Linked DNA regions of Homo sapiens: region 1 is linked to region 2. Evidence: fine-mapped expression QTL. Tissue or cell type: whole blood. Region 2 holds a variant in brackets; the other region holds the start of a gene. All regions are shown on one strand. Distances are between the middles of the regions.

Evidence for each region. PIP is the estimated chance that this variant, and not a neighbour inherited with it, causes the effect.
Region 1: MEGF9 starts here. The variant in region 2 is fine-mapped to the expression of MEGF9 in whole blood (TOPMed, PIP 0.94).

What each region holds. Positions count from the first base shown.
Region 1 is chr9:120,710,410-120,718,513 of GRCh38, reverse strand. MEGF9 (multiple EGF like domains 9) reads left to right here and starts at 4,044. Exons shown (of 6, transcript NM_001080497.3): 1 at 4,044-4,756. The coding sequence starts at 4,156. RefSeq lists a silencer at 3,507-4,356.
Region 2 is chr9:120,588,427-120,596,530 of GRCh38, reverse strand. No RefSeq gene overlaps it. Among named protein-coding and RNA genes, the nearest start is that of CDK5RAP2, 12 kb to the right of the region's middle. The variant G/C (reference allele first, on the strand shown) is at 4,587.

The DNA of each region.
Region 1 (8,104 bases), 120 kb before region 2:
TGCACATTGGCTCCAACAAGGCCCACTCTGACCCCTGCTGTTCTGTGGTCCTTCCCTAAGCCTTTGGCTCCAGGTCTCATGGGCCTTAGCTACAGTTCTGGGGCAAATAGGAAAAGTGCCAGTCAATGTTCTGTTACACAGAGTGTCACAGCTATAATTTTTATTTTTTCTTTTCTTCTTACCATTATGAGGATTTTCCATTTATAGTTAAGGGTGTCAGTGGGAGCCAGCCAGCCTCAGTTTGATTTCTAGCTCTATTATTTACTAAGTGACCATGGGCAAGTTGCTTAACCTGTGACCTAGTTTCCTTAGCTGTAAAATGCAGATAATAATAGACTATAGACTGAATGTTTGTGTCCCCCTAAAATTCACACGTTGAAATCCTAACTCCCCATGTAAAAGTATTTGGAAGCGTTTGGGAGATGATTAGGTTATAAGGGCAGCGCCATCATGAATGGAATTAGTGTCCTTTTAAAGGACACCCAGGGAGCTCACTGAATCTGCTGGTGCCTTGATCTTGGACTTCCCAGGCACCAGAGCTGGGAGAGATATATTTTTTGTTGTCTACAAGCCACAATCTACAGTACTTTGTTGCAGCAGCCCAAATGGACTAAGACATAATAGTACCTATTTCCTGGGGTTTTTAGGATTAAACAAAACAATTCATATGTAGCTCTTGGTATAGTGTCTAGCATAGACTATGAGCTCAATTATTTACTATTAATATTTGCTATACTGTCTTCATAGCTACACTTACAATGACTTTCTAGGATTAAATTTAACAGGTATAATAATACCTTTCTTTGATGACAGATATGTAAGGTATTTCCAATTTTTAAACACAAACATAATTCCTAAGAAAGTCATCTTGTAGTTTAGAGATTAAGGAAGATTTAAGATTAAGGAAATTTAAAAATTAAATGTTGAATGGACATTAACACATTTAAATTACTGGTATCTTTCAAAAAAATTCAATATTTTCTATACATATGACAGGCTAATATCCCATCTTAAAAGCCCCGGCATGGATGATCCTTGCCTAAGGCAGAGAGCTGACCTGAATCACTCGACAAGGTCTCCTAGTCATTTGCTCTGTGGCTCTCCTGGCCAAGAAGCTGCATCAGCTTTTTTCCCCTTGCCAGAGAACCTCTGATACAGCAAAGCTCAGGGCCAACCCAGCATTTTTCAGATATCATTTGGAAATATCAGGTAGGGCAAGTGTCAGGCCATGTCACCTGATGGGGAACTTATGGGGCAGGGGTTTCTGCTCTGGTCCTTCAGCCAACAAGTCTCAAAGTTAGCAATGGTATAACAAAAATATGAACCTACACAGCTTGAGCACCGTCTGTGTGCTAGGCTCTGTAAAAACATTCTCCTCAATCCTAGTCAACAAATGAGAGACTATTTATTGGCCCCATTTAATAGATGAGAAAAGTGGCCTGGCGCGGCGGCTCATGTCTGTAATCCCAGCACTTTGGGAGGTCTAGGCCGGAGGATAACTTGAGCTCAGGAGTTCGAGACCAGCCTGGCCAACATGGTGAAACCCCGTCTGTACTAAAAATACAAGAATTAACTGGGCCTGGTGGCAAGTGCCTGTAATCCCGGCTACTCGGGAGGCTGAGGCAGGAGAATCGATTGAACCTGGGAGGCGGAGGTTGCAGTGAGCCAAGATCACCCCACTGCACTCCAGCCTGGGCGACAAGGGTGAAACACTGTCTCAAAAAAAAAAAAGTGGGGGGGAAAACTGAGGCTCAGAGAGGTGAAAGGTTTCCTCCAAGGTCACAGAGTTGGCAGTCATGACCCAAGTCTGTCTGACTCTAAAGACACAAGCTCCTCCCACAAGCACGACAAGACCTCAATTAATTCAATTTAACCAGCATGGGTTGGCACTTACATGTGTTGCCCCTGCTAGGTTCTCAGAACAGGGAGAACATCTGACGTAAGAGACAGACACATAAATAACAAGTTCTAGTATTAAGGCTGATGCATGCCTATGAGAAGTAATAAAGCCATGTGGGCAATACAATTTATCCTGTTGTATATATTTCTGAAAGCCATCCTTAATCCTTTTAGGAAGAGGCAACGGAGAGGTAGATTGGTAGATCAGGGCTGTAATCAATGCATAAACAAGGGGTGGTGGGGAAATGAGAAGGGAGAGATTAATTCCCACTCAAATCCAGGAATGTCTTTTAGAGAATGTGACATTTTGGTTGGGGTTTGAAGGGCCAGGGAGGGTCAGCAAGGGAATATGGGGGACTGGCATGACCTGTCCACCCTCCCAAAGCAAAGTAAAAATAGAACCTTGGTTAGTGCTTGCTAAATATTGGTCCTGAAGACAGAACACTCACATTCTCCCTCATTCCCGCTGTCTTATATACATAGACCTATCAAGACACACCCATAGATAACCACAAATGCAAAAACACAGAAAATACACAAAAACACACACCAGTACACATGCACAGATTATTAAGACACAATATATGAAAATAGATACTAGCTCCCATACTCATAAACTCACACAGATACATACAACACTCATACACACAGACTCACAAACATGTTTATGCATTCATACACAGCCTCCCCCACCCACTACTCATGCAGGAAAATAAATGCATGCTTTAATTAACATACACGGGTTCACACATAAATCTCATCCTGCTGGTCTGGTTGAAGACCAATGACTAATGGGAAACCATGCACAAAGCCAAACATCACGTAGGGGAGGCCGGGATTGGGTTAGCAGTGGGGCTTGAATTAAGCCCCATCAGATGACAAACCCGCCCTGCCTGGCTTCCTCTGGAAGCTGCTGAGCCGAAGCAGCAGCGCCTGACCTAGCTCTGGATCCTGGGCGGATGATGCGAGGCTGCGTGCCCGAATTCCAGCTTGATTCAGGGTTTAGTGTCATCCAGGGTCAAGCTCGGCTATTAGCCCCACCCCAACCCCTGCAACCAGCCGGAGGCTCTGGGGGCACTGAAGGGCTGTGGCCTGGGGCTGCTTTCTAATCCTGGGCTTGCCCTGGCGCAAATGCTGAGAATAGTTAGCATTAATGAGGGTTACAACAGTGGGCCAGGCTCTGGGCTAAGCCCTTTACGTCCATGACTTAATTCTCACAACAGCTCTGTGAGGGGGGTGGGGGGTGAGGGGTGTCCTATCATCTCCATTTTAGTGGTGAAAAAACCGCGCTCAGGCCACAAAACCATTCAGCAAAAGACATCAAGTTGAGGTTCAACCCTGTCTGATCCTATTCTTCCCGGGGTTTAGGTAAGTGTGCTTGCGAGCCTGTCTCCTCCACGCAGGAAGCTTGCACCTTCTGCCCTCAGGGGTCTCCACCGCCCGGTCCCGCCCCCTTGTCCAGTCTGGCACAACACCTGGCCCACAGCAGGTTTCTGGTGAGGGCGTGGGTCTCGGTTCAGGGAGGCCCTCAGCAAGGGCCTCAGCTTCCCCATCTCTGAAATGGGAATGGCGGCAGAGACCTCGCAAGGCTGCGACCAGGCTCTCTGGAGCAGCAGAGGGCATGCCAAGCTCTACATCGTCGCTGCCGCTGCCCTCTCCCATCGCGGGGTTCCCGCGCGGTCCCCGCCCGAGCTGGGGTGCGGCGCTGGCGCCCCATTGTTCAGGAGGGCGGGGATGCTCCCGAGTGCTGATTCCACCCCCCGCTCGTGCTCGCAGCCCGGTGGAGCAGATGACTAGGCCCGGCGTCTGCCGCGCGGGGCGCATCCTTTGTCTGCTCCGCGGCGCCCGGTGCCCGAGGCCCGCGCCCCACTCTTTGGGCAGACAAAGCCGGGGCCGCCGCGAGCCCGGCGGGCTAGAGCTGGGCTCGCACCACCCTTCTCCCGCCTCACGGACCGCCCCCTCTCCTGGACGTCCTCTGATTGGCCTACGGGGCTACAAAGAGGCCGGGAAGCGGGCGGATCACGTGGGCGACTGTGGCTTCCCATTGGTTAGGCGCGGCTGCCAATCGAGGAGGGCGGGCGGTCCGCGCTCGGTCCGGTCGCTCCCTCCGCGCTGGGGCCCGCCCGCGGGGCCGGCCGCCTGTCAGAGGGAGGTGGCGATGGTGCGCCCGGTGGCGGTGGCGGCGGCGGTTGCGGAGGCTTCCTTGGTCGGATTGCAACGAGGAGAAGATGACTGACCAACCGACTGGCTGAATGAATGAATGGCGGAGCCGAGCGCGCCATGAGGAGCCTGCCGAGCCTGGGCGGCCTCGCCCTGTTGTGCTGCGCCGCCGCCGCCGCCGCCGCCGCCGTCGCCTCAGCCGCCTCGGCGGGGAATGTCACCGGTGGCGGCGGGGCCGCGGGGCAGGTGGACGCGTCGCCGGGCCCCGGGTTGCGGGGCGAGCCCAGCCACCCCTTCCCTAGGGCGACGGCTCCCACGGCCCAGGCCCCGAGGACCGGGCCCCCGCGCGCCACCGTCCACCGACCCCTGGCTGCGACTTCTCCAGCCCAGTCCCCGGAGACCACCCCTCTTTGGGCGACTGCTGGACCCTCTTCCACCACCTTTCAGGCGCCGCTCGGCCCCTCGCCGACCACCCCTCCGGCGGCGGAACGCACTTCGACCACCTCTCAGGCGCCGACCAGACCCGCGCCGACCACCCTTTCGACGACCACTGGCCCGGCGCCGACCACCCCTGTAGCGACCACCGTACCGGCGCCCACGACTCCCCGGACCCCGACCCCCGATCTCCCCAGCAGCAGCAACAGCAGCGTCCTCCCCACCCCACCTGCCACCGAGGCCCCCTCTTCGCCTCCTCCAGGTGAGTCCGGCGCTCCCTCTCGGGCAGGACCCGTCCTCACCTCAGCCCCGGCAATCTAGGGTTGGGCTCTTGCCTATAATTTATCGTTTGTTACCCCAAAGACACCCCAGGTTCCGGCTCCCGAGGGGGGATCCCAGGTCCAGCTAGTCTCCCTCCCGCCCCCGATCAATCTGGAAAGTCTTTTGTCCCCCGTGGGCTGTGCTCCCTCGGGAGGGGGTGGCTGCTGGGTGGAAGGCATCTCATCTTCTTCCCAACAGGGCTTTCTGGCCTTTTTCAGAGACCAGAATGGGCGCAAACTTTTGGGTTGGGTTCGCGCACCCAGCCTCTCTGCCTGGGTTATTTGGGGAAGTTTGAAAGCCCGCATAGTACCTCCTTCAACCACTGGGTCAAAAGCTGAGGGTAAGGAATTCCTCCCAAAGCTCCAGTTTCCCTGTTCATTTCTTCTTGTTTATGTAAATATCAGATGTGTGTGTATGACAGGTGGAAGAGAGGTAGTGAGAGGATTTTGTTTACAAACAGTAGTATGGACCACTTGAGGGCAAAAAATAAAAACAAAAAAGGCATTGTAATCCATGTTGTCCCTGCAAATAAGTGGATTCAGTAGGTCATTTGGGACAGGTGTGTATCTAGGCTGAGCACATTTACAAATTAGGTTAAATCTCTTCCTCGCACCATTTTTTTCTTCCACAATTATAAGGTCAACATGTTTGGCCAAATACACCATTTAAGCAAGGATGCCTATTTTTGTCTCCTTAAGCCAGGATGTTCAACTTTGCTGATGCTGATATATGCCAATTTCTGTTTGAGCCCACGTAGAAAAGGCTTTTCTTGCTGAAGTCTTCAAGCAAAGTTAAAGACAACTCGTATTCTTTCCCCGTTTAAATCTTAAGTGGGCCTAGGACTAAAACAAAACAAAACAAAAGCCTACTTTGTCAGAACGTTTGGACAAAAGTTTCTGAATTGTCTTGCTTTGAGTTGGGGTGGAGGTTTGTCCAAATCCTTTGTCTAGCTGGGTCTCTGACCTAAATCTTAGGCTTAGTGATTTACTGTGGAGTCAGGTATGGACTTTGGACTATAATTGAGTGTGTAGAGAATTTTCCCACATGGTTATGAACCTTAATACAGTCTTGATCCTTGGGTTGGAGCTTGGCAATGACATAAGTAGGATTATTCACCCATAAAAAGCCAAGTGTGCATCTCTTCCAGCTTCAAGGAATGCATTAGCTAGCTGGGTTTTACCTGTAACCCCTTTTGGCTTTCATATAGAGAGATTGACATATTACTGAGAGACAGGAAGCATAGTGGTTGAGAGTATGGACTCTGGAGTTTATTCTTAGGTTTGAATCCTAGCTCTTCCCCTTGTTAGCTGTGTAAGCTTAGGCGGCTCACTGAAGCTCTTTGGACTCAGTTTCTTTGATTGTGAAATGAAGATAATATTATAGTAGTACTTAACTCATAAGGTTGCTGTGAAGACTTTTTTTGTTTTTGTTTTTGTTTTTTGAGACAGGGTCTGGCTCTGTTGCCCAGGCTGAAGTGCAGTGGCACAATCTTGGCTCACTGCAACCTCTGCCTCCCAGGCTCAAGCGATCCTCCCACCTCAGCTTCCTGAGCAGCTGAGACTACAGGCGTGGGTCACCACACCCAGCTAATTTTTTGTATTTTTTGTAGAGATGAGGGCTCACTATATTGCCCAGGCTAGTCTTGAGTTCCTGAACTCAAGCAGTCCTCCTGCCTCGGCCTCCCAAAGTTCTAGGATTTCAGGCATGATTCACTTCACCAGGCCTGCTGGGAAGATTAAATAAGTTAACACTTACTGTGCTTACAACAGTTCCTAGTGTAGAATAAGCACCGTGTGTGTTAGCTATGCTTATGACCAGGCCTGTGGGTGTGTGTGTGTGTGTGTGTGTGTGTGTATGTATGTATGTATAGAAAGCATTTGAGAAAACTAGTAGGGACTTGGGGTGATTTTTATTTGTTTTAGTAAAATATAATAGAAAAAGAATGAATTAGATTCTCTGGAGTTTTAAGCATACAGTAGCATTTAAGTAGAAAGATCACTTACTTTGGTTAGTATCTGATAAATAAATCTGTGTAATTCATGTTATTTTACTTTTACTATTTTTGTGTTGTTATTTTTCAACCCCAAAGGTAACCCCTACTGGCAAAAAAATATAAACAACCAGAAGTCCACAAAGGAAAAAGGGAAAGTCACTCCTTCACTGCCTCCTAGTTTCAGTCAGTCCCTAGAGGTTACTACTGTTAGCAATTTGTCAGATCTTTTTTCAGCTGTTTTTGCTGGGCATATATGAACATACACACAGGGTATTTAAAAATAGATTTTAAAAAATCAAAATGGAATAATTCTATACATGTTTTGCAACTTGTGGTATTCACTTAACTATGTATCATGGACTTTTAAAAAAAATATCGGTATCTAGGGTCTACTTTATTCTTTTTAATAGTTGCATTTTCCAGGGTAAGAATGTATCATAATTTATTTAACCAAGCCCTTATTTATGGACACTTAGATTGCTTCTAGGCTTCACTTTAAAAAGCAGAGAGGAAGCAGCACAGAGTATTTTTGTTAAATCCATCATCTATTTACTATATTCTCTAATACTTTCACTGGAGTTGCTTAGAATCCAATTCAGTATACACTGCAGTAAAGCTGGATTGAGTAATATTTGTCATCTGAACTGTTGTTCAAGGCTTTTAATAATTTTCATGAACTAACATTATACTTACGTCTGTGATGGTCTTTGGGTGAAAAAATCTTGGAAGGATGTCCAATTTCGATAACTTTCCTGTGTTTTAAATATTAGGTAGTTTGTACTTCTCTGTGAATTCACTCTAGATTGCCAATATCTAGTTCTCAGCAGCTAAATTGACTTTACAGTGATCTGATCAAGTATGGAGCATGGGCTCCAGTCTACTTTAAACAGAAAACATATCTCTTTGGCAGAAGGAAAACTTATAATTGAATTTGAGACAACTGGTTTGGCTTGCAAAGTTGGATTCCCTGGCATTTGAGAAGATGGTTGTACAGTATTTTTTAATTTCAACGTTCCTGTAAGAACTAATGCCACTGATAATATATTATTTGATTGAATAGGTCTTATAGATGCTTTTTGAATTAATAATAATTTCTTTCATGGAGATCTAGCTGAGAGCTCTTGCCTGCCCCTCAGTTAGGGCCCTTTTTTGTTTACAAGGACACTGATCTGCAAACTGAAACTAATTGCCCAGCAAGCAGGCACTTTTTCTCCCACAAACCCAGCAAAACATTCACTGATTGGTTGGCTGGGTAGGACTTTTTTTTTTTTTTTTTTTTTTAAGACGGAGTTTCGC
Region 2 (8,104 bases):
ACTCCGACTCTCCTAAAAAAATACAAAAATTAGCTAGGCATAGCACCTGTAGTTCCAGCTAAACGAGAGGCTGAGGAATGAGAATTCGCTTGAACCTGGGTGGCCGAGGTTGCAGTGAGCCGAGATTGCTCCACTTCACTCCAGTCTGGGTGACAGAACAGAGCAAGACCCCGTCTAAAAAAAAGGATAATAAAGGAAGTTTATGCCAACAAATTTGATGACTTACGTGAAATGTACATATTCCTTCAAAGACACAAACCATGCTCACTCAAAAAGAAATAGATAACCTAAGTAGTCATGTTACCTTTATTTAATTTAATTTGTAGTTAAAAACTATTTGTTTGTTTATTTATTTATTTTTGAGATGGAGTCTTGCTCTGTCGCCCAGGCTGGAGTGCAATGGTGCGATCTCAGCTCCCTGCAACCTCTGCCTCCTGGGTTCAAGCAATTCTCCTGCCTCAGCCTCCCAAGTAGTAGGATTACAGGTGCGCGCCACAGTGCCTGGCTAATTTTTGTATTTTTTGTAGTAGAGACGGGGTTTCACCACGCTTGCCAGGCTAGTCTCGAACTCCTGACCTCGTAATCTGCCCGCCTTGGCCTACCAAAGTGTTGGGATTACAGTCATGAGCCACACCGTACCTGGCCTGTAGTTAAAAACCTTTCACAGGCTATGTGTAGTGGCTCACACTGTAATACCAGCACACTGAGAGGCCAAGGCAAGAGGACTGCTTGAGCCCAGGAGTTTGAGGCCAGCCTGGGCAACAAAGTGAGACCCCGTCTGTACAAAAAAAAAAAGAAAGAAAGAAAAAAAGAAAAATTAGCCATGTGTGCTGGTATATGCCTGTAGTCCCAGCTATTTGGGAAGTTGAGGTGGGAGGATCACTTGAGCCCAGCATTTTGAGGCTGCAGTGAGCCGAGGCTGCACCACTGCACTCTATCCTGGGCAACACAGTGAGACCCTGTCTCCGAATAAACAAAAAACAAACCTTTCACAAAGAAAACTCCAGGTCCAGATAGCTTCACTGGTGAACTCTAGAAATATTTAAAGAAATATTACCAATTCTACACAAACCCTTCCAGAAAAACTAAAGAAGCAATATTTGTCAACTCATTCTATGAAACCAGCATTACCCAAATAAAAAAAGAAGACATAACAAGAAAACAACAGACCAATGTCTCTCATGAATATAGAGAGAAACATTTCTAAGAAAATTCAAGCAAATTTAAGTACAACAATACACTTTAAAAAACAGTACTTCAAGGCTGGGCGTGGTGGCTTCTGCCTGTAATCTTAGCACTTTGGGAGGCCAAGGCGGGCGGATCACCCGAGGTCAGGACTTCGAGACCAGCCTGGCCAACATGGCAAAACCCCGTCTCTACTACAAAAAATACAAAAATTAGCCAGGCGTGGTGGCGCATGCCTGTAATCCCAGCTATGTGGGAGGCTGAGGCAGGAGAATTGCTTGAACCCAGGGGGTGGAGGTTGCACCACTGCACTCCAGCCTGGGTGACAGAGCAAGACTCTGACTCACACACACACACACACGCACAAATAGTACTTCATTACCAACTGGGGTTTATCACATAAATGTAAGTTTGGTATAACATTTAAAAATCAATCAGTGTAATTCACAAAGGCTGAGAAAGAAAAATAATATGATGATTACTTCAATAGCTGTACAAAAGGCATTTGGCAAAATCCAATATTCATTCATGATAAAAATGATGATGATGATGATACTCTCTTGTGTATTGTGATATAATAAGAAATATAGGCTGGGCACAGTGGCTCACGCCTGTAATCCCAGCACTTTGGGAGGCCGAGGTGGGTGGATCACTTGCGGTCAGGAGTTTGAGACCAGCATGGCCCAACATGGCGAAACCCTGTCTCCACTAAAAATACAAAAAAAATGGCCTGGCATGGTGGTGAATGCCTGTGATCCCAGCTACTTGGGAGGCTGAGGCAGGAGAATCATTTGAACCCAGGAGATGGAGGCTGCAGTGAGCTGAGATTGCGCCACTGCACTCTAGCCTGGGCAACAGAGCGAAACCCTGTCTCAAAAAAAAAAAAAAAAGAAATATATATTTGGGTCTTTGTCTAGCTCCCAGCTTTTGTGCAAGTTTCTAAATGATAAGAGCTGTAGTAGCATCTTAAGTTATATTTGGTTTTTGCCCCTGGCTCTTGTAATAGGTCCAGGGTGATAAAGGTGAAAGGAACAACTTTTGTTACTTATCATAAGTCCCTGTTGACCACACCTGAGTTATTGAAGTGACTTTGGAAAAGCCCCTCAAGATGAGGGTGCTGGTTGCCAGAGGAATCAACTGTATGTTTGGAAGATTGAAACGTTTAGCCCAGGAGGTTTTTTCTTTTGTTTGTTTATAGAGAGGTTCTCACTCTGTTGCCCAGGCAGGAGTGCAATGGTGTGACCTTGGCTCACTGCAGCCTTGACCTCCCAGGCACAAGTGTTCCTCCCGCCTCAGCTTCCTGAGTAGCTGGGATTACAAGTGGATGGACTATAAGTGGACACCAGTACACCCAAATAATTTTTATTTTTTTTTAGAGACAGAGTCTTGCTATGCTGCTAGGGCTGGTCTTGAACTCCTGAGCTCAAGCAATCCTCCTGCCTTGGCCTCCCAAACTGCTGGGATTATAGGCATGAGCCACTGTGCCCAGCTAAGGCCAGAAGGTCCAGGCTGCAGTAAGTCATTATCTTGTCACTGCATTCCAGCCTGGGCAACAGAGTGAGGCCCTGTCTCTCTCTCTCTCACACACACATACACACACAGACACACACACACACCCCTCACTATATGTTAGTAAATGAATAAGTGAATCAGCCGTATCACAGTTTCTACACTCATAAGTACAATAAAGGTGTGTAAGTATACTGCAGTCTGCAGGCTTTGAATTAGTGCAAACTTAAACCAAAATCCCAATAAACTGTTATTTTGGAAAGCATCAAGTCACTTGTAAGTAGGGATGTTTGTGAGTGACCCTGGGAACATACAGCACAAAATTCCCTTCGATGGAATGGTGCTGATGAAGCTCATTCCTTCGGTGTAGAGAGAGATCACGCCCACAGACCTGACTGCATGTCCTCAAACACTGCGGCCTGTGCTGACTGAGTAGGAAGCAAACATAGTCCAATATATGGATGCTTTTGGTGTCCTCCCCTTCCTGCCTTTACTTTTACTCCAGAACCAACAGGCTTCATCTCAGCTTTTTAATTTCCCCAAAACATTTTCTAAATGAGCCATTGTTATCTTTAATCACCATGGCTAGGGGGGATTATCCAGCCTCGTTTGAAGAAGCTATTTTTTGCAAAGAGATGAGATCCTTCCAGACAAGGATAAAGACATTAATGTTGTCTATTAAGATTCTGCTTTACTCAAGATAATAATTTTAGGGTAAATTAAGGAAATTGTATAGACGCCAATGGGCCATTAATCCCCAGTGGAATTGTCTGAAATGGAGAGGCCTTTAAATTTGGAAACAAGGAATTTGGCAACAGTTACATTTTGAATTTCCTTCAGTTAAAATGAAAAGGTTTCAATGTTAACAGGTACTGTCCTGGGTAAAGAATTTTATTTAGTTACAATCTGTATCTCAACTTTTTGTATTAAAAGGTAGAGATCATTAAACCTTTGAATTAAGAGTTAAAGTATCAGTTAAGTATACTAAGGAGGAAGCAGAAACATACCAGAAAACCTAGGCTAAAGGCTAAGTTAGCAAATGGCACCCAGTTGAGCTATGAGCTGCCCAACAAACAGCAACATAGATTATTTACCTGTATTACTGTCTAATTAAAAGGTGCATACTGGAACATCAACATAAAATCTATTTTTCTTGGTTCTAAAAGATAATAGCTTATGGTACAAAAAGCATCAGCTTTGAAAGTGATATGGACAGGAGACAGGGAAATACTGAGTAGAAGAGAGCGGTCCCCGGCAAAGGCCCCACCCTCAAGCCTGGAGACCTGCAGCCCTAAGTGGGAACAGGCATTTCTGTTTTCGTGCCCAAAAAGTTGCCTTTTTGCCCACCACACCCCCTATCTTGTACCCATATAAACCCCGAACTCCAGGCTCCGGAAGCAGACAAGCAGGGGAGGAGATGAGATAGGCAGAGGAACTGCGGAATGATGCAACAGAGAAAGAGAGACGAAGAGGAACATCTGAATGCCCAGAGGAGTTTGGCTGGGGGTGGTCAGAGAGGAGTTCGGCCACTGGATGGGCAGGCTCCAGGGGAATATCATCTTCCTATTCCATTCCCCCTTCCAGCTCCCCATCCATCCCTCTAAAAACCACCTCCACCACTCAATAAAACCCCACATTCATCCTTCAAGCCCATGTGTGACCCGATTCTTCCAGGATGCTAGGCAAGAGCTCACAATACAGAAAGCTATCACACTGGCCCTCTGCCCTTATGAAAAGGCAGAGGGTCCATTGAGCGGTTTAACACTCAAGCCGTCTACAGATAGGAGGGCTAAAAGGGCACACTGTAACACATGCCCACTTGGGTTCCTGCAACTGCCTGTCTGTGTGTTCCCCCTTCCCTCGGGGGTTTGAGCAGTGGCAGTGACAGGCAA[G/C]CCACACTTGCCTTCACACGTCCTGTGAGAGGGATTGGGGAACCCTCCCATTTCAAAAGCAGAGAGATATGGGTTCTAGTGCAGGCCTCACAACTGTAGGATCTGGGGCAACTTAACAGATGGCTCTTCGTCTTGTCGCCATTACCTATAAAAGTAATAACTTTTTAGTTATCACTAAACATGGGGTTTCGCCATGTCGCTCAGGCTGGTCTTGATGCTGACCTCTTAGGGTTGCAGCAAGGTTAAGTGAAAACCTTATGTGGAGCATCGCAGCACATGCAAGGTCTATAATGAATAGTTCGCTTCCTCTCTCCCTATTATTTAAGAGGTCTTTAGGCTGGGTGCGGTGGCTCATGCCTGTAATCCCAGCATTTTGGGAGGCCGAGGCAGGTGGATCACAAGGTCAGGAGTTCAAGACCAGCCTGGCCAAGATGGTGAAACCCTGTCTCTACTGAAAATACAAAAATGAGCCGGGTGTGCTGATAATGCGCCTGTAATCCCAGCTACCCGGGAGGCTGAGGCAGGAGAATCGCTTGAACCCGGGAGGCAGAGGTTGCAGTGAGCCGAGATCGTGCCATTGCACTCCAGCCTGAGTGACAAGAGAGAAACTCCGTCTAAAAAAAAAAAAAGAGGTTTTAAATAAAAACTTTACAAAAAATGCAATGTTTTTCTATCTCTAGTGAGTGGATAATTGGATCAGGTACCAGCTAGTTTGCTTCCTGACTAGAAAACCAATCTACAGCCCAGTATTTGAGTAAGGCTACTCTTGGGTTTTGGGTATACTTAAATGAAATGAGACACCTCCCTAAGTTGAATTGCTGCTGTTTCTGTGTTTTCAGTGAGTGGTCTGTGGCCAGGACGGCATCCACAGGAGGCTGAAAGAAGCAAAGTGACATGTTGTTGGCATTCTATGGTTCCACAGGGATCCATGAAGAAACGCCATATTTGCCTATGGGAAATGGGTGGGAAACTGGTATTGTGAAGCGAGGAGAGCACAGGCCTGGAAGTCTGCCCATTTTGGGTCTATTCTTGCTCTGTTATGCACTTGTAGAGTGAACTTGGGCAGGCCGCTGAATCCATCTGGATCTCAGTTTTTCCACTGGTAAATCCAAGAAGTTTCGTTAAATGTTCTCTGTGAGGACCTTTTTAATTCTTGTATTCTATTCAGTGGGAAGATAAGGGTGTTCAGAGTAAGATAATTAATTCTGGTTAAGATTTATTAATTCATTCTTTCCTCAATATTTATTAAACACCTATTATCTGCCAGGCACTATAAGAGACCAGAGGGTATAGAGTTAAAAGTTCTTGCTCTCCAGAGTAGCCAGACACAAGAGTATGCACTGTATGATTCCAGTCCTAAGAAACTGTTGAAAGACAAATCTTGGCTGGGCATGGTGGCTCATGCTCGTAATCCTAGTACTTTGGGAGGCTGAGACTGGAGAGTAGCTTGAGTCCAGGAGTTTGAGACCAGCCTGGGTGACATGGCGAAATACTATCCGTACAAAAAATACTAAAATTGGCTGGGTGTGGTGGCATGTGCCTGTAGTACCAGCCACTCGGGAGGCTGAGGCGGGAAGATCGCTGGAGCCCAGGAGGTCGAGGCTGCAGTGAGCTGTGATTGCACCACTGCACTCTAGCCTGGGCGACAGAGGGAGACCCCGTCTCAAAACAAAAACAAAAAAACAAAAAACAAAGGAAAGAAAGAAAAAACAATTTTTTTTGTTGTTTTGATACAGCATCTCACTCTGTTGCCCAGGCTGGATGGAGTGCAGTGGCGTGATCTCAGCTCACTGCAACCTCTGCCTCCCAGGTTCAAAGGATCCTCCTGCCTCAGCTTCCCCAGTAGCTAGGACTACAGGTATGTGCCATTATGCCCAGCTGATTTTTGTATTTTTAGTAGAGATGGGGTTTCGCCATGTCACCCGGGCTGGTCTTGAATTCCTGACCTCACGTGATCTACCCGCCTTGGCCTCCGAAAGTGCTGGGATTACAGGCATGAGCCATCGCGGCCACCTCATGCCCCACTAATTTTTAATTTTTTCTTTGTGGAGATGAGGACTCCCTATATTGAGTAGGCTGGTCTCGAACTCCTGGGCTTCAGCAATCCTCCTGCTTTGGCCTCCCAAAGTTTTGGTATTATAGGTCAGAGCCACCATGACCAGCCCAAAAAGACAAATCTTTAATGAGGAAAAATAGAACAGTGAGGCCGGGTGTGGTGGCTCATGCCTGTAATCCAAGCACTTTGGGAGGCTGAGGTAGGTGGATCACCTGAGGTCAGGAGTTTGAGACGAGCTTGGCCAACGTGGTGAAACCCTGTCTCTACTAAAAAATACAAAAATCAGCTGGGCGTGGTGGTGCACACTTGTAATTTCAGCTACTCAGGAAGCTGAGGCAGAATTATTGAACCCGGAAGGCGGAGGTTGCAGTGAGTCCAGATCTCACCATTGCGCTCCACCTTGTGTGACAAGAACGAAACTCTGTCTCAAAAAAAAAAAAAAAAAAAAAAAAAAAAAAAAAAAAAAAAAAAAAGCCGGGCACAGTGGCTCACGCCTGTAATCCCAGCACTTTGGGAGGCCGAGGCGGGCAGATCACGAGGTCAGGAGATCGAGACCATCCTGTCTAAAACAGTGAAACCCCATCTCTACTAAAAAATACAAAATATTAGCCGGGTGTGGTGGCAGCGCCTGTAGTCCCAGCTACTTGGGAGGCTGAGGCAGGAGAATGGCGTGAACCCAGGAGGCGGAGCTTGCAGTGAGGGGAGATCGCGCCACTGCACTCCAGCCTGGGCGATAGAGTGAGACTCCGTCTCAAAAAATAAAAAATAAAAGAACAGTGATTTCCTGAGGGGGAAGGGAGATTGACTTGGACTGTAACACCAAGGAACCTTGTGGGGTGATGGAAATGTTTCACATCTATGCTAATACAGTAACCACTAGCCCCATGTGGCTATTTAAATTTTAATTAAGATAAACATTTTAAAAATTCAATTCCTCAGTCACATAGCTACATTTCCAGGGTTCAATAGCCACAAGTGGCTAGTGGCTATTGTATTGGACAGTGCAGATTTAGAATACTGTATTTCCATCATCCAAGAAAGTTCTGTTGGAGAGTCGTGTTCTACCTCTCTCTCTCTCTTTTTTTTTTTTTTTTGAGACTGGATCTTGCTCTGTTGCCCAGGCTGGAGTGCAGTGGTGTGATCTCAGCTCACTGCAACCTCCACCTCCTGGGTTCAAGAAGTGATTCTCCTATCTCAGCCTCTGGAGTAGCTGGGATTACAGGCACACAACACCATGCCCAGCTAATTTTTGTATTTTTAGTAGAGATGGGGTAACACCACTTTGGCCAGGCTGGTCTTGAACTTCTGGCCTCAAGTGATCTGCCCGCCTCAGCCTCCCAAAGTGCTAGGGTTATAGGCATGAGCCACCGCGTCCAGTCTGCTATTCTGTATCTCTTGATTCTGATGATGGCTACATGAGTATGTAAGTTTGCCAAAACTCACCAGAATGTATACTTGAAGT